3 separate regions of the Homo sapiens genome follow, and all the other regions are linked to region 1. The links come from fine-mapping of genetic effects on gene expression. A gene starts in region 1. Each other region holds a variant in brackets. All regions are shown on one strand. Distances are from middle to middle.

Region 1 (6,357 bases):
TGGTCAGTAACATTGCTAGGAATAGTGGTAGGGTGAGTGTATAGGTGATTTACTCTGGCTAGAAAACAGCTGTCACAAGTTCCATTTCTTCTGGGATATCCTTTAAGGTGGAATGCTTGGCAAAATCAATGTACATCAGAGTCCATAACTCATAATGAAATAGGCTTCCATGGGGAACTGTTGTACCCTGAAGCATGAGCACTAAGTCAGATACACTTGTCACTATGTGGTACGGTCTGATTGTTTGTGTCCCTCAAAATTTATATGTTGAAACTGAGTCCCCGAGGTGATGGTATTAGGAGGTGAGGACTTTGGGAGGTGATTGGCCATGAGAGTGGAGCCCTCATAAACGATATTAGTGCCATTAATAGAAGTTCTACAGAGCTGCTTTGCCCCTTTTACCATGTAAGGTCACAGTCAGAAAGTCCTATCTATGAGGAAACACACCTTTACTAGGCACTAAATCTGCTAGCAACTTGGTCTTGGACTTCACAGCCTCCATAACTGCGACCAATAAATTCCTGTTATTTGTGAGTTACTCAATATATGGTATTTTGTTATAGCAGCACAAGTGAACTGTGACACTATGTGTCTGGAAGATGTGAACAACTTGAGAACTTAGGTTTTTCTTAGGTACAACGGAGATAATACTAGTACCAGATTAGTGATGAAAAATGTTATGCAAAATATTTAGCACAAGCCATGTTATGTAATAAGTACTTCTAAGTGTTTACAGTGACGACTTCACAAAAGCCTGGCTGTAAAAGTTTGGGAAGTCAGGCTTCTCTGGTTGGCTTGGAAGACCATGTTAGTTATCAGACAAGCCAGGGATTTTGAGTAACCCCAATTCTTGAGGGGAAGAAAGTAGAGTGGAAGAGGAGCCAAAATTACTAATAGTCCTTCATCTGAGCTAGATTTTTGATATCTGTTGGTTTTGTGGAAAATCCAAACCTAATGTCTTTTATTGAAATTCCCCATCTCGTGGATGGTCTAGGACTGAATTGAGTTATGTAAAATATCATTTGTGGAGTGATATTCATTTGTATACCTTTTCAGTTCGAAACAGTCAAAAGTCTCTCTCTCTCTCTCTCTCTCTCTCTCACACACACACACACACACACACACACACACGTACACACCCACACACAGCCTTAACCCTGGCCACCTCTATACTATTTCTGGAATCCCAGATTCTATAAAACTATTTTAGTTTCTAACAAATGTCTTGGTCTTTATGATGGTCACCACCATGAAACACAGTTACTTTACACTTTCTTGCCTTGTTCATAAATATTCCCCAAGTAAAATTACTTGCTACACTTTTCCCATTTAAATTTGCATTGGCTAAGTGAGAGACATCTCTACAGATTGCTCAATTTTAGGAAAATAACCATTCCCAAGAAACACAAACAAGTCAAATCAAGATAGTTACCAGGAGCAATTCTTTATATTATCCAGTTGCACAACACACTTCTTGAATAAATGACATATCCTAATTTAGGATACATCACCAGATTCAAGTCAGAGAGTATCCTGTGCCAGTCAATAAGAGTGCGGGTCACTGGAAGATCCCTTCGTAGAATTTTTCTCAGGGCTTCATTGGATAACTCCTGTAATTCTTCCAAGACTGCAGCTTGAAATTTGTTCTCTTGCTCTTCCACAAGCCTTGCAAAACTTAGAGCCAGTTGAGCTTGGTTAACTATTTCCAAGCTTTCTTTCAGGTCCTTGGATATTTCAATATGAAGGTTGACACACCTGAAGAAGTGAGCTTGCACAAATATTCTTCCCGTTACTTGGGTTAGAAATGGGTTAACTTGGAAAATCCATTTAGATTTCCAAAGTCCGTTCCAGCACTCTCCTGTTTCATAGTTGTGATCTTCAATGCAAGCTATCAAGTACTCCTTACTTTTGACAGTTTTTCTCAGCATGTTGCAATTTCCTTTTGGATAGTGGTCATTCACATACAGTTTTAAGGCGCACAGAAGAACAACTCTCAGGTATTCTGCCTCATTCTGAATGATACCATGACTTTGGATGTCTTTCAGCTGATTTTGAAGCAGGTCATATTTGAAAGAAAGTTTGCTTTGATGGTCAAAAAATCGGTAGTCGCCCATTACATTGTGGTGAGACAAGAGTACTGGATTTCCATCGATGCAGAGTGGTACAGAATATTTTTGGCAGTGTTGGTGGCCTGCACACTCACCTTGGTGGTGCATAAGTTTTTCATCACGGATAAGCAGACAGAGATCATCAAAGGCATTTACAAATTCCCCTGGAGGGGCCTGTAATAACAGTCTGCGAATTACTCTTTCCTTGTCCTTCCTGCTCAGCACGCTAAGTGTCATGTTTGGTTGCAACAGAAGCAAAGCTTCTGAAATGAGGAGTGTTCAAAGGATAAGAAAACATTCCATGAGCCACCTTTCCCATCAAGGTGTTAACATTCAAGCTGAAGGTTTTTATGTCTATCCATGAAAGCAGGCAGTCTGGCAAGGTCTGAGCCTCCTGATGAGGTCATAAGAAGCTTTCCTTGTGAAGTGTGGAACCTCTGATGATATCACAATGGGAATTCAGACCAAAAGGAAAAAATGACAGTCACCTGACAGTGTGGTGCCCAGCCAACCAGCTATACCTCTTTTGAAGATTTTAAGAACTTAGCCTCCTGAACAGTCTTCTTCGAAAGTGGTGTGTCTCTGTGTGCATTATATGTTGTCAACGATCTAGAGAAGCAGCCCAAAGTTTCAAGAGTGACAGCACTTTGCAACTTCAGGAATCACAATGGTGTTGATTTATACTCAGGCTCTCAGAGTAGCTGCCCAAACCCACTGGAAGCATATTATGATGAAAGGTTTGAGGGGTTTAAACAAAGTAGTAAAAAATAAAAGGAGATACAATGGCAGTTCATGGAAAAATGCCAGACATCAGGGAAAGCTGTGTTTTCAAATATTGTGGGTTTGGAGGTGGTCAGAACGTAAGAAGCCAAACAGTTTCAAGGGCAGGGTAGTGCAGGTACCACATCTTGCATACTGTTTCTATGGTTAAGTGTGAGCTAGCTTCAAAGAACGAAGGCAAAAAAAACCACTGTGTGTTCTCTGCTTTCTCCCTAGAAAAGTGGTAACAGCTGATGAGTATCAAGAAATTATTTTCTGCAAAGGGGCAGAGTTAATTGTATTTGGAACCCATGACAGCACCTACTGGGGAAAGACTTCTAAGTGAGGAGAAACGGCTCTACAGGTCATGAAACTATGGAAATGAGATATCCATTGAGAGCTTCTTTCTGCTCCTCTTCTTCTTTCTCCTACTTATCCTCTTTACTTGATGCTGTTATTCTTTTCGAGGAGTTCTGAATTTAAGTCCTCTTCATTTAAGTTGAACTGCTTTTCCCTGTTTGTTCTGAGCTTTTCTAACTTTCCCTGCATTCTGGTATCTTTTTCTTACAAGAACATGAGCTTTGCTGGATTAAGTCATAACTATTAAATTTAAGGAGATCTCATTAATTCGTTCTAACAATCTGAAACTTAGTAGTTTTGCACAATTTTTACCTATACCTTTTATAATTTTAGTGATAATTGTCATTATCTCATTTCGATCTTAGTTTTTCAAATGGAAGTGTCCTAGTTTTTGTAGTTTATCTATGATAAGTAAGCTTTTAAAAATTTTTTTCGTTTTTCATACCAAATATACACTCACCATGGTATTTCTGATGCTTTTTGATGGTACTGTCTTGAGTGTGTGTGTAGCTGGGCATTGGACTAATGTAGTAATAATAACTTTATCAGTCATGGTTACTATTTATTGAACACTAAGTAGCAGAAACTGTGTTCGGTGGCATATTAGGAATTCATCTAATGCTTCCACTTTCCTTAAGATTCAGGGTTAATTTGCTCACCTTTCTGGAAGAGAGAACTAAAACAGAGAGGTCAGGTGAGAGGCGATCTTGAAGTCTAGCTGCCTTCCAACTTCATGCCTTCAGGCAATAGATTGTTATAATGTTTTAATGTATGTTCTAAGTAATGACTTCAATTCTCAAATTTTAACTTTAATTCTTTTTTTTGTATTTTTACTGTGCTATGCCCTTTCATACCTTTACCATAGCATAGTAACTACTTAATTTTGTTTTTTAAAAAATATTTATCATACAATTATACTATAATTTACTTTAAACATATTCTTTAAAAATAAAAATAATACAGTAAATCAAATGTTTCTTTAGGAATTTTAAATATTCAATGACTTTCTGTGAGAATTTCCTTAACTTTTTTGTGCTTCTACATGGTTTTTGTCAAAGATTCAGGATGACTTCAGAGGTGGAAAAATTAACCTAGAAAAAACTCAGAGGTTACTTGAAAAATTAGATATTCGGTGCAGTTATATTCATGTGAAACAGATTTTTAAGGTAAGATGACATCCACCCCCTGCCTATCCTATCCTAGGTGGAACTTAATCCAATGTCAGTAATTGTCATATAAAGGTTAGTCTCTTAAGAAGAAAAGCAATTAATTATACTAACTATATTTACAATCAAGATGGAGAGCATTTCAGTAGAAGGTAAAATTAGTTGTTGAGAAAATCTGAAATAATACCAGGATATCAGTTTAGAATAATTTCCTGAGCATACAGAAATGCTAACATTAAACCTAGGATTGGATGTCTAATTATATCAGACTGATAATGGTAACTGTATTAGATGTTAGTGATTTATAAAAAGAGTGGAGAATAAGCCCAAAGTTAGCAGAAGGGAGGAAATAATACAGATTAGCACAGAAATAACTAAAATAGAAAAGAAAAAAATTAGAAGAAATTGAGGAAACTAAGACTTGTTTTTTTGAAAAGTTAAATAAAATTGACAAATACTTAGAGTAAGAAAAAAGAGAGAGGAGTCAAATAAAATCAGAAATGAAAGTGGAGACATTACAACAGATCTCACAAAAATGAAAAACACATAGAGCAATCATACACCATAAAATTGGACAATCTAGAAAAAAAAGGGAAATTTCAAGAACCATATAACCCATCAAGACTGAACCAAGAAGAACTAGAAAGGTTAAACAGACCAATAACAAAAAGGAGACTGAGAGGCTGTGTGCAGTGATTTGTACCTGTAATCCCAATGCTTTGAGAGGCCAAGGTGGGAGGATCACTTGGGGCTAGGAGTTTGAGACCAGCCTGGGTAACATAGTGAGACCCTGTTTGGAGACTTAATCAGTAATCAAAAACTGCCCAACGAAGAAAAGCCCAGGACCAAATGACTTCACAGGTGAATTCTACCAAAGATTTAAAGAAGAATTAATACCAATCCTTCTGAAATGCTTCTAAAAAATAGAAGAGGGAACACTTCCAGTTTTATTTTATAAGGTCAACATCATCTGGATACCAAAGCTGGACAAAGGCACCACAAGAAAACAAAACTTTAGGCCAATATTCCTGATGAACATAGATGCAAAATTCCCCAACAAAATAATAGCAAATCAAATTTATAGCACTTTAAAAGGATCATATTCCATGACCAAATAATATGTGTCCCTGGCATGCAAGGATGGCTCAACATACAGAAATCAATCAATGTGATACACCACATTAACAGAATGGAGATAAAAATCACATGATTATCTCAAAAATATAGAAAAAGCATGTGACAAAATTTAACTCCCTTTCATGATAACTCTCAGTAAATTAAGTATAAAAGGAACTTAACACATTAAAGTCCATATATGAAAAGCTTACAGCTAATATCATATAAAATAAACTGAAAAGATTTTTTTCTAAGATCTGGGAAAAGGCAAGGATGCCCACTCTCACCACTTCTGTTCAAGATGGTACTGGAAATCCTAGCCAAAGCAATTAGTCAAGAAATGAAAATAAAAGGCAATTAAATTAAAAAGGCAGAAGCAAAATTATCTCTATTCACTGATGGCACAATCTTACATGTAGAAACTCCTGAAGATTTTGTTAACAAACTACCACAAGGCCGGGTGTGGTGGCTCATGCCTGTAATCACAGCACTTTGGGAGGCTGAGGCAGGTGCATCACCTGAGGTCAGGAGTTCGAGGCCAGCCTGGCCAATGTGTTGAAACCTCGTCTCTACTAAAAACACAAAAATTAGCCAGACGTGGTAGTGCACGCCTGTAATTCCAGCTACTCAGGAGGCTGAGGCACGAGAATTGCTTGAACCTGGGAGGCAGAGGTTGCAGTGAGCTGAGATTGCGCCACTGCACTTCAGCCTGGGCAACAGAGCGAGAGTCCTCAAAACAACAACAACAACAACAACAACAAAAACAACTACTAGAACTATTAAATTCAGTAAAGTTGCAAGATACAAAATTACTATGTAAAAATGTGTTGCATTTCTATTCATTAACT
Region 2 (6,357 bases), 200 kb after region 1:
ATGAATAGATACGTCCCTTTTTAAAAGTCAGGAACATTTTTGAAGTCTTTACTTCTGTTCTCTTAAGTCCAAATCTATTTTAACAGTTATGCTCAGAAAAGCAGACACTCTTCCCCATCACATAGAGAAGTTAGGAAGATCTCTGATGGGAAATATCTAATATAATAATGGGTGTGATAAACATTTTAAACTGGGCAAATGGTCTCTGTGTTCTCTGGGAGCCTTCCATAATAGCTGATATTGATTTTTTAATGAGAGAAAAGCTGATGAAACACAGGCTTTTATTTTCGGGAACTCAGCCGGCAATACTCTTGGGTCTCCTACAGATGTTACTTTTAAGCAAGATGGGAATTTCATGGATTACTTTTTACCCCGCTTTTCTCAGGAGTAAATAAAAAGCAATATGGATATCTGGAGACATGCTGCTCTTTACTAAGGATGAGCCATTAACTCTGTAGTGGACCCACCAAATGTCTGTGGCCCATAATCCTGGGGACTGATCATTTGCACAAGATAGAATTTATGACCCATGTCAAGTATTTCTCAAGTTGTAACTGGGTCATGGTAAGTAGACTGAATTCTTTTTAAAGAATTTAACATAAAAGAGTCGGGTTGAGACAGAATTAATGAATAGATTACATACATAAGTAGAAAATAGTCTTTCACAAATTTAAACTTGGTTTTATTTTATAAGAAGCTATACCAAAGAAAGGGTGGTCCTGAAACTTTCACTAAATGCTTTGATGATCTACAGTCCCATAAGATAACACAGTTGAGAAGAAGAGAGTTGAGAGGTAAATGAACAGAAACTGAGGTAATAACACAGTGCTGTTTTACATGTATTTATTCATTAGTTTAATTGGTCCACATTGCTTCTGATCTCTATTTCAATTTCTGTGAGAGCCTAAATCTAAGATTATATGTTTACTCTGGATTAGTGCCTTCCACTGCCAAATTTTCTTCCTTAGCCTAAAAGAGCTGAATAATTAGAGCATAGAAGTTTTTTTGGATATACTATATTCCAGAAATTTTCAACAAGTGATTAATGATAAATTATTTTAATACTTATGAATAAAATACCACAGTTACTTCTTTTAAATAAAATACCACTATACATTCTCTTTGGTGATTGTTTAACATATCATGACTCTTATGCTGAATGCTTTGTTAAGGTATGTAGAAAAGTTTATTAAACAAGAGAAAAAAAGCCCACTGATAGCTTTCTGAAAGAGCTGTTCTTTCACATTATTTTAACATGCTCAGTTTTCATCAGCATAATTTTAGTGTCACCTGAGAAACAGCATAACTTATATTTGTGCTTTTCTGTTTTGGGTTTATTTTTGAAATATCTGGAGCAGGTTAAAGCAATTGTTAAAATTGGGTACTATTCCTCACATGTAGTTATTTATATCATTATAGGCATTTAGAAATGCTGGATACCTCGGTCTTTTATGTAAATAAATTTTATCTTCCTCATTAAGTTGAAAATTTTAAGACTCTGGGTCTCTTATGTTAATGTATCCTTGCAATTTCTAGCCTGTGGTAAACACTCAAGAGCTCATGAATTCATGAGCTAGAGCTTGCTAGAGTCCAAGGAGACATAGACTTGATACTACCTGGATATTTATTATTTAAATGGGGTCAGAATCACAGACTTAATCCTTATAGGGTTTTTTTGTTTGTTTGTTTGTGGTACAGACACATTATAAACCGTAGTCATCTCATACTTGCAAAACGGCCTAATAGAATTGGGAGATAGAATGCAAATTTACCAATAAGAATCCTTGGCTATTACTGAAAAGTAATCTTGAAGATTTCGGAGATGGGTAGAACTTTATATATCCACTTTACACAAGAAGAAACCAATATCTTTGCATATGAAGGACATGTTTATAATATTTTTAGAGATACTTATCTTTCAAGGCAAAGTGGAGAGAAGTAAGGTGAATATGTTGTTTGAAAGTTAAAACAAGAATCCAAATCAAATCTTCCTTGCAACAAAGTCAACATTTGTTCTGTACTAACCAATGGAACTTTTCTGTGGTGATGGAAGTTTCCTATCTGTGCTGACCAATATGATGCCACTAGCCAAACGTGGCTACTGAGTACTTGAAATGTGATCAGTGAAATTGAAGACTGGAATTTTAAATTTTGTTTAATAAAAATTAATTTAAATATAAACAAACGTGACTAGAGGATATTACATTGGACAGTGGCCTTATAAATTAACAAGGATCTAGTATAATAACATAAATGAATTGAAGTCTACTAAATGGCAAGTACTGTGCTAAGTGCTTTATGTTAATGATCTGTTAGGGTTGTTATGAATTTTAAATCAATTAATACACACAAAGCACTTAGCACAATGCCTGGGCCATGCAAAGAATTCACTACTAGGTCATTTATTCATTAACTCTACAAGGTAGATGTTGTTATCTTCATTTAACAGATAAGGAAATAGTCTTTTGGGGGTTAACATGTCCTGAAGAATGTAGCCAGTAAAATGCCAAACTAGGATTGAAACCCAGAAAGGTCTGCCTGCCATGTTTGTACCCTTAACAACATCTGGTAGAATTATTGTCATCTGGAAGCTCTAAATCAGTTATTTTTCATAGACTCCAAATCCCATGCTGATAGACCAAATGTATGTTTCCCATGTATAGTTTGCTGCAATCACTAGTGTGTACGTATGTGCCTAGAGGAATCACTATATCCCTCTCCTAGAAGATATTTCTATCAGATTTTTCTTCCCTCATGGTACATATCTGGTCTCCATCTCTTTAAAGTGAACAGTGGAATAAAACCTTAAATTTTCCCCTGTTGGTCACAAGAGAGTGTGTAGGACCATGACTCAGTACACCTAATGCATACCACGAAAAGCTGAGTTGCTAGCAACTCACTTTCCACTTTTGACTCTCAGTTTCTTAATGTGGGAAATTGGCAAGTGATCAAAGGTGGAGTTTGGAATGGACAGCCAGGGAAAATTCTTGCCTGGTCTACACTATTAGGTTGTCATGATATATAAATGAGATAGTATATATAAGGCATTTTTGAAAGATCCTAATGCCTAGTATGACTGAAGGCATTATTTTTAAAATTACTGTCCTTGAACATTAGTCAAAATATAGTGGGATAACCCCTACCTGCATCAATATTGATACGAATAGGAATGTTTGAGACAATAACTATGAACGAACATATTAAATTATTAAGAAATACGTTTATAAGCTGTACAATGGTACTCTTAGTTTTCTCATTCCTTTCTCTTCCGAATAGCTCCTTGGGGAACTCCAAGCCATTAGTAAAAATAGACTACTGAAGCAGAGGCATAAATGAAGCTTATTATTTTTGTTTTTTTTTCCCAAGGGACTTACCATTTCCAGCAGGTTCAAGAGCAGTTGGCTGTGCTTTCTGATAATATTATAAGCACGACAGCAAAGTTCCACAAAATCTTGAAAATGCTGTGGGTTTTTCCCACCCTCTGTAATAAAGTATTCCATCTCTGAAGTAAAAATGAAAGGAGCTCGGTCCCTGTAAACCAAAAACAGTAGCAATCATTCGAAGGAAGAGAAATGGTTTGTCAGGTTAAATCAGCAGTTATAACGACTTATTTTCATTTGAATTTTCTTTTTTTTTTCTCTAC[T/C]GTAATAGATAAATTTCCTTCATTGTGAGGCAGCTTGAGAAACTGCATAATTGTAGGCTTTGAATAACCATGCTGCAATAGAGAGAAAAGGATAAGATATTTTACAATGTCAACTATATTGTCTGAAATGTTTAATTCTAAATTACATTTGGAGGGGAATATTATTCATTAAAAGTAACATAAAGGCCAATTCATAGTGAAGCTGATATTTATAGAGTCTTTATAAAAAGTACATTTTCTGCTAAATTTTGATATGATCGAACAGATGTGTTTGACCTTATAGTATTAAAAAAAATTTCCTTGTATGATGACCCTTTAGGAAAAAAGTTTCTGGTAAAAGCTAAGAAGCAAGCAGATGTTACCAATTCACTGGCATATGCTTAGTGAAGGAGAAAAAAGGTAGCTATATTTTATTTCACACTGGACCCAGTAAAAACGCTGGTCAGAAAGGAAGATATGAGTAGACCATATCATTATGTAAGTAATACTGACCACTGTAGTCTAAGGATGGAAAAATAAGAAAACAAAAGACCAGAGAGAAGATGGTCCCACGTCCCCCACCTTTGTCAGTTTTTTTATCATGTCATTTAAGATACGGATAGGGCTGAGATGAAATATTAGCAATTCTAACAGAGAATAGCAGAGAGAGGATTGGAAACATCCCTGTTGGAGGAATTACCACTCATTGAATAAGAACACAGAGTTTTGATACCTTAGGCCAATTTGACACTAATTTGGTGAAAGGTTAGACCAAGTAGCAATTTAAAAAGTCATGGATTATTGAGGGAAATTCTTATTTTTGTTTTAAATAATAAAACATAATTGTTTTCTTTTTGTTGCTTATGCTTAGCTATTTCAGTAAAAATACAATGGAGTGAAAAATTTCACTGATCTGACAGTTAATGAGACCTTTCAGTAGTGTGGATATTTATATCAGAAAGCTACAACTTCGTCAATTTGTGGCAGGTTTGGGACAGGGGGGTCTAATTGCAGGCAAAATCTTTAAAATAAAACAAACACTCGAGTTTTTTGGCTATGATTATTTTATTTAGAAACTTTATTTTGTAATCCATGCTACCACAATGCCTGGAGGAAAGGCTGGAATACCAGTACCTTCACTTCTGTTTATATTCATTCATTTCTTCAACAAAATTTATTGAGCACATACATACACTGCGGACTATGTCTAAAGTATCAGGTCTAAATTTTAAAATTTTGGTTCAAAATCCTTTTTTATTTGGCCTTCATTGACTTATCCAACCTATATTCTATGAATTATTTTACAAGTTCTTGACTTTAGCCAAGCTGGGAGAAGAGATGTTGAAAACATGAGATATAGCATAGGTTCTAATTCTGGACCTGCTATGTCTCAATCCTTCATCTCTAAACCACCTAACTCTTAGAATTGCTGTGAGGATTAACTTAGGAAATGTACATGTACATAAATGCCTGACACATAGGGAGGGTGGCACATTTGTGAACTGCTCACATTAGAGAGAGGCTTTTGCAGAGGCACAAACTGTGGGCCTGTGAACCAGGTTTCAAATCATGGCTTCACCACTTAACTATAGTAGTTCTATGACTCTGGGTGACTTAATCTCTCCGTTCTCTAATCTCCTTCTTTGTAAAATGGAGATAAGAGCACTTGACTCTTGGTATGGTTGAGAGAATCAAATGGGTCATAGCATGTGCAAGTGCTTACAACATAGCCTAGCATGTAGTAAGCACTCACCAAATTTTAAATAGTATTGTCTGCAAACAGCCAAGTGTTCTCATAGCTGAACCTTGTTATCACTAAATTTCCTTGTCTCTTCAAAAATCTATCAGAAAAATCTCATCCTTATTCCAAGATTTAATTTACTCTGTTACTCCATGTAACCTCTCTTGCTGCATAAACCCGTAAGTGGATCTTTGAATTTGATAGCATTTTTTTAATTATACTTTAAGTTTTAGGGTACATGTGCACAACATGCAGATTTGTTACATATGTATACATGTGCCATGTTGGTGTGCTGCACCCATTAACTCTTCATTTAACATTAGGTATATCTCCTAATGCTATCCCTACCCCTCTTCCCCCACCCCACAGCAGGCCCTGGTGTGTGATGTTCCCCTTCCTGTGTCCATGTGATCTCATTGTTCAATTCCCACCTGTGAGTGAGAACATGCGGTGTTTGGTTTTTTGTCCTTGCGATAGCTGATAGCATTTTTTATATATTGCTCACTCACTCATCACTATTGCCAATATTTTAGTAGAGTTTTAGCAATATCATAGATTTTCATAATCAGAAAAATATCTTAATTTTATATGTAACAGTTTTCTAATAGTTTTTCCACCCTACTCTCTATGCTGTGTTTACTATATCAAGTAGAACTTCGGAAATAATTTTAGAAGAGTATTAATTTTTTACAACTTCCTGAAACTTTTTCTCCTAATATGATGAATATACTTTTCTCTTTTCAATAAGGAGAATTATGATGGATCAAATTAATTTCTCTTGGGAGGTTTCTGTAGTTATGCTCAAGTTCATGAGATAACACATTTCTTTTGTCCATAGTCACCATTATTAGAAATCAGATGCAGAAACACCATAACAGAAAGTTAAATACACAAAAGAAACATATACAAATTAAATAAAATATAAAGTAATATTAAAGAAACAAATTTTAGTTGTGCTTAAACATTATCATAGTCTAAATTTTCAGTAGATCCA
Region 3 (6,357 bases), 93 kb after region 1:
TTAGCAAGATGGTAAATTACTCTCTAGGAAGAAATTTAAATATACTTCACCTTTTATACCCCATAAATATGTACAGCTATTATGTATTCATAAAAATAAAAAGAGAACATCATTCTTCTGTGTTGAAGGTTAATGAGGAAAAGCAGACTATTTTTTTTTTTTTTCAATTTTAGATTCAGGGGAATAGATGTGCAGGTTTGTACCAGAGGTATATTGCATGATGCTGTGGTTTGGGCTTCTAATGATCATGTTGCCTAAGTAGTGAACGTAGCACCCAATAGGTAGTTTTTCTACCCTTGGTCTCCTTCTTGTTTCTTCTCTCTTTTGGAATCTCCAGTCTTTATGGTTCCCATCTCTGTGGCCATGAAACAGACCAATTTCTATGATTTTCCTGTGCTACTTAAATGCAGCACAATGACATTTTCTTGTGCATATGCAGGCATAATACTGTGGTTACTTTTATTTATTCAAAATTACTAATTTTTAATTATGAAAATACATGCTTATTAAATAAAATCTGCATGAAACAAAAAAAAATACCAAAAAGGAAGAAAATAATTGGAATTTTCACCATTGGGAGACAATTACAGTTAACATTTTGATGTTCTTTTTGTTTTCTATATATAATCACTTATTCAGAATCTGACTTGTAATTATGCTGTATATACAGTTTCACGTCTTGTTCTTTTTTTGTGACTTTTTTTTTCAAAAGGAATCTGGTCAGCTGTCCTTTTATAATGTTCAGGAAGTAAGTTACAGGTCCATCGGCAACCTGCAGTGGTAAAGCAACGTAAAGGCATAGTACCGCTAAGAAATTAGTTATTTATCATGAAAGGAGGAGAGAGCTGAGTGGAAATCTGGCATGGTTACCAGGGAAATGTCTTAGAACACATTTAGAAAAGGAATTTCATATGCTGCTACAAACTTGCCTGCTTTTTACAGCCAAGTCACAAGATAGAAACTTTCTCAATATATGCCAAAAAGAAGCAGAAGAGACAACTTGAGAGGGCAGCCCTCTGAGTTCACTGGGTGGCCTCCCCTGTGAGCATGGATTTAGCTTCCAGTACTTTGTACAGCATAGGCTTACCTTTCATTACGTTATCAATGAAATTCAGTTCCAGGTCAATCTGTTAGTGACTCTGAACAATGATTCACTTACCAAGTAAATAGGTTCAATCAAAGGGCATGAGATACAATATGATATGCGAATGCGGTCTACCCTGATCCATGTGAGTGTTCTTGGCTACCTCTTCTTCCAGAATTTTACTCTCATTCCATACAGGAGATTATGGTTTAGTTTTCTGGTGTTGCTCATTCACAATGATATTTTCTTGTACATATGCAGGAGTAATACTGTGGTTACTTTTATTTATTCAAAATTACTGATGTTTTAATTATGAAAATACATGTTCATTAAATAAAATCTGCATGAAACAATTTCATTTCATCTATTGAGTTTTCCTGGGATAATAAAGGATTTTAAGAGTTGCCTTAAAAAATCTCAGAACCCTACCACTGTAATTCATGCTTTTTAACAACTGGATGCCCAATGCTGCCTGGAAATCTTTCTAGGACTTCAGAGTAAACTCCTTTTCCTTTTCTCTAAGTGGGTATTTTGAGCTGTCTGAACTATTCTCCATTTTTCTTCCTACATCATGTTCAGCTGATGAACTCCTCTCTTATTTTACAGAGAAAACAGAAAGGAACCCTCAAAGTGTGACTGTATATGATGCAGAAAAATGGGGAAGTCTGGCTAAGGACTCTGTGAATTGCATGAATAAGTCATAAATTGTAAGTTTTTAAAAAACATATCAATAATTTATATTTTCATGAATCTGTTGTCAACTGTGTGTTTTCTCATTTGTATAATGATGATAATAATCCTTACCTTTTAGCATTATAGGGAGGAAGAAATGAGATAATGAATATAAGCCTTGCTACAAAGCCTGGAACATATTAGACACCAGTAAATTATAGCTGAAAAAGATCCATCAAATACACAAAAAGGAACAGTTGTTTCTTAGTATTTTGCATCAATTGACTGGAGAAAACCCTTCCAGACAGAATTGAGTCTTCCAGGTATTTAGCAAGCTGAAAGCTTCAAGAAATGACTTTAGGAGTTAATTGCTTTCCTGGTTAAAATACAAACATTTGAACTTCCAAAGTTTTTATTACTTCATATATTTTTTCCCTCTGCTTCATTAAGAAAAGTTATTTTCTTAAAAGTGACTGAAGTTTTATAAACCTGTAATCATTGCACATTATAGATGATAAATATCTATTCTGATTGCTTTGGTGCATCCATGATGTTGTTAAATAGTAAGTACTCTTTTCAACTGAGCAAAGAATAATTAGTGGCTAATGTTAGCGAAGTACAGAGATGATTATATTCTTTGAGACCTTTTCGTCAAAGGATTTAATATATATTCTGCATACTCAGAACAAAAAAAAATGGTTCTGGTACATACTCAGAACCAAAAATAAATAGCTCTTTTAATTTCTTTTTCTAATAATTTTTACCTATAGGCATGAGTTAAGTCTTTACTACCTTCTGACAAATAACTAAATGTGTGGGTTTGGAATTATTACGTCTAATAGAAAACACTTAAGGTAATTAATATCTATTAACATATACTGAACATTCCAAGAATTTACTGAACATTAGTTGACACAAGGGTCTAGTAAATAATTCTAAAGTGTATTTTCATGATTGAAATGAGAGGACAATAAGATAGGAACTGAAGTGTCTCTAGTGCTTGTGGGAAGTGGTAGAGGAGGCAGGATAATGAAAGAAAGAGTTCAAAAGCGAGAACAGGGGTACTGCGTGGGAGGAGACAGGTAGGAATAACAGCATAGTGTAGTGCGGTAACCATGAGCTTTGGAATCAGGCAGTTCTGGGCTTGACATCTAGTTGTGTAACCTCTGGGTCACATTGTCTTCACTTACAAATACAATTTTCATCATGTTGAAATTGCAATAATATTATAACACAGATAACAATAACTATAGCTTACTGAGTGTGCCATATACTTGGCATTGTGCTAAGTAATCACTGTATATTCTGCAGGAGATTTTAAGGGATGTAAAATGCATAGAACGTTCCTGTTCTGTTCTTTCTAATTTTCCCTTTACACCTTACAACAGAATAATATATAAGAAAAGGTTACAATATACAAAATATATTGATTATAAGCATGTAATTCTGTCATAGGGTAGAAATTCTGTATTTCTAATGAATTGTGTGAAAAATGATGGTTTTTAAGAAGATGGCAAAAGTAGTGGCGTGGAAAGAGGCTTTGGAGCCCGGAATCCCACCTCTGCTTCTTCAAGCTGTATGGCAGTTCCCTGAGCACTCACACCCCCAGCCCCAGACCCATCTTGAGACCAGCCATGCCTATCACTGGGATTTGTACATGACAGGGGTTTTCAGGGAGACTGCTGATGAAGCCTATTGGGGCTCACTCTGCGAAGTGTCAAATAGACAAGCTTGGCCCTGCATCAAAGCCTTAGTATGGGAAGGGTGGAGACTCTGTCACTTTTCTGTGTCCCCGACCCAGCCCCTCTCATCTCTGGATATTAAGGAGAAAGGAGGATAGGAATAAAAATAAAAAGAACTATTTTCACAAAAGGCTTTGTAAGACATTGGTATGCAGTGTAATATCTTCTTTGTACTCCTCTGAGAGATTTATATAAAGAGGAGAGTGAGGTCATCCTCTCCCACTTCAAGAACAGTACACGGCTTTTACAGTTTGAGAAATCCCAGCTGTGGTGAGTGGTTGATGCAGCAGTACTCAGTGAGGCGGCGGAAGTGGAGGAAAAGTTTAAAACAAGGTAGATGCCCTGTGATAACTCACTGGGCTCTCTAGTAAGCACTGGGCTTATTGGTAAAGACATCTAGTAAGGT[G/C]CTCTTGAGGTTGCACACAAGTGATCGAGGAGTTTGACACAAAGATGGGATCCTACATCACAACTGAGGGCAAGAGACAGTAAAATCAGAGTTAACATCTAGTGTGCTTCTTTGCATTTCTTATAAATATTCTTGTTGTGTTGATACAGGCATAGAATGAAAAAAATTAAATTAACCGTTGTTGCCTTTTTTTCCTTTTGGCTCTTGGAATTCACCCAGCTTCTTTGCCAGAATTGTTTATATGATTAGAAACCTCTTACTGTCCTAATGACTACTACTAAAATCATCACTTATACACACACTACTTCAAATTTCTGCTTGATTGGACTATGTTCTCATCGGAATTGGCTATGCATGGACCATGGCTTTCGAAGCAATTTAAAATGTGTCCAAAGTATAAAGTGTCTATTCATGCTACAAGTATAGATCAATTGAGAAAGATTTGTAGTGAGTTTTAATCAGTGGGTTATGGATGTGTGAGGACCTAGGTATTGCAAGCCCTCAGAAAAGTTATGTGCACAGCAAGAATTATAAAATAATTTTCCATGAATATAATTTACTACTGTTTTCTTATAATACATAAAGCTTGAAATAAAACACAAGTTTATTTAAATTGTTCTGAATTGTTAGTGGTTTCTTGTTATTATATGTTTTCTTATACTGAAAATGCTTATGCCTAACACAGGGTCTGAGAAGTTTCTTGATAGTGAGGCATGGAGACTTGTACTCAAAAAGTATGAAAAGAAACAGTGATATATTGTTGGGAAGTGTATGCTTCTCACTGTTGACATCATGACAAATAATAGTGTCAAAATATTTTTCCTTACCAGTTTAGAGAATCTCTCTCTCTCTATATATATATGCAGTATATACATGTATTTACATTTTATACACACACACACACACACACACACACACACACACACAGTGTCACTTATAAAACTGCCCCGAATATTTATTACACATCATTTTAGAGGTAACTAAGTGTTAAAAGTATTAAAAAGGATAAGACATTTAACCCGCCCTGGAGAAGTTTATGATATACTAGAAGAAAAACCGTGTAGGACTAAAGAAAGGATTATAAGTGTGGTGTGAGTCCACGAGGTGACAGTGTTTGCAGAGTTCACATCTGAGGTCAGTCTCAAAGCAGGCAGAGAAGGGCAGAGAGAGGTGAATGGTGGCATGAGTTCTATCACAAAATCCTACAGTCCATTCAGGGAATGACAAGCTGTCTGATGTGATCTGAAAATATGGCTAAGTATGGGATAACAAAAAGAGTATAAGAACACAAATATTCCCAAGTGATTTTTGACAAACGTGCAAAAGAAATTCAGTGGAGGAAGAATTGCCTTTTCAACAAATAGTACTGGAATAATTGGTATCCACAGTGGGGAAATAAAGAGCCTTGACTTAAACATCACATTTTATTAAAAATTTAACTCAAAATGGGTAATGTACTTAAATGTAAAATGTAAAGCTATACAACTTTTAGAAAAAACTATAAGAGAAAATCTTTGAGACTCAGTGCTAGACAAAGAGTTTCTTAGTTTCGACCCCAAAGGTACCATCTATAAAAGAAAGAATGAATGGAGGAAAGCCTGGTCTAAAAGTGCCTATGAGACATTCAGATGGAGCTCCCCAGTAATCAGGTAGAAGTGTGACAGAGGCCGGGCATGGTGGCTCACGCCTGTAATCCCAACATTTTGGGAGGCTGAGGCGGTGGATCACCTGAGGTCAGGAGTTTGAGACCAGCCTGACCAACACGGCAAAACCCCGTCTCTGCTAAAAATACAAAAATTAGCTGGATGTGGTGGTGGGAGCTTGTAATCTCAGTTACTCGGGTGGCTTAAACAGGAGAATTGCTTGAATCTGGGAGGTGGAGGTTGTGGTGAGCTGAGATTGCGCCACTGCACTCCAGCCTGCTAGACACAGAGTGAAGGGCTCCATCTCAAAAAAAAAAAAAAAAAAAAGCTTGAGAGAGAGAAGCCAGGGTTTTAGGAGTAAATTCAGATGCAACCTACCTATAGGTGATAAATAAAACTTTGTTGATCCACAAGATAAATGTGAGAGTATGTACAGGAAGAGGAGATGAGGATGGATCATGTGACTTCAGTAAACAATAATATTTTAAGAGAAAGAATAACAATGAAGGAAAATGAGAGAGGTGGTAGAGAAATGGAAATAAGTGGTAGAGAAATAAGTGGTAGAGAAAATGGAAGAGAATTAAGAAAAGGTACAACTCAAAAAGCAAAACGGAGGTTTCAGGAATGGGGCTGTGGTCAGTAGTGCTGCTGTATAACTGATCCAGGCACGAGAGCCTGAGGGCTCTTTGGATTTAGCAGTTAGGAGTCTATTGATGCCCCTTGAATAAAGTACTATCAATAAAGGTCAGAATCCACATTGCAAAGCATTCAAGGGTGAAAGGGAGAGATGAAGGGAAAGCAGATCATGTG

Evidence for each region. PIP is the estimated chance that this variant, and not a neighbour inherited with it, causes the effect. A credible set is the group of variants that fine-mapping cannot tell apart.
Region 2: its variant is the best candidate, but not a certain one, in a credible set for the expression of CAPZA3 in unexposed skin (GTEx, PIP 0.64).
Region 3: its variant is the best candidate, but not a certain one, in a credible set for the expression of CAPZA3 in sun-exposed skin (GTEx, PIP 0.82).

What each region holds. Positions count from the first base shown.
Region 1 is chr12:18,734,257-18,740,613 of GRCh38, reverse strand. It overlaps CAPZA3 (capping actin protein of muscle Z-line subunit alpha 3), which reads right to left and starts at 2,495. Exons shown (of 1, transcript NM_033328.3): 1 at 1,426-2,495. The coding sequence starts at 2,345. The coding sequence ends at 1,446. It overlaps PLCZ1 (phospholipase C zeta 1), which reads left to right and starts at 2,602. Exons shown (of 15, transcript NM_033123.4): 1 at 2,602-2,682; 2 at 3,105-3,253; 3 at 4,270-4,393. The coding sequence starts at 3,243.
Region 2 is chr12:18,535,330-18,541,686 of GRCh38, reverse strand. PIK3C2G (phosphatidylinositol-4-phosphate 3-kinase catalytic subunit type 2 gamma) reads right to left here. Exons shown (of 33, transcript NM_001288772.2): 25 at 3,375-3,531. Among named protein-coding and RNA genes, the nearest start is that of PLCZ1, 200 kb to the left of the region's middle. The variant T/C (reference allele first, on the strand shown) is at 3,644.
Region 3 is chr12:18,641,261-18,647,617 of GRCh38, reverse strand. The region is part of intron 32 of PIK3C2G (phosphatidylinositol-4-phosphate 3-kinase catalytic subunit type 2 gamma); the gene reads right to left. It also overlaps a transcript of PLCZ1 not described here. Among named protein-coding and RNA genes, the nearest start is that of PLCZ1, 94 kb to the left of the region's middle. The variant G/C (reference allele first, on the strand shown) is at 3,905.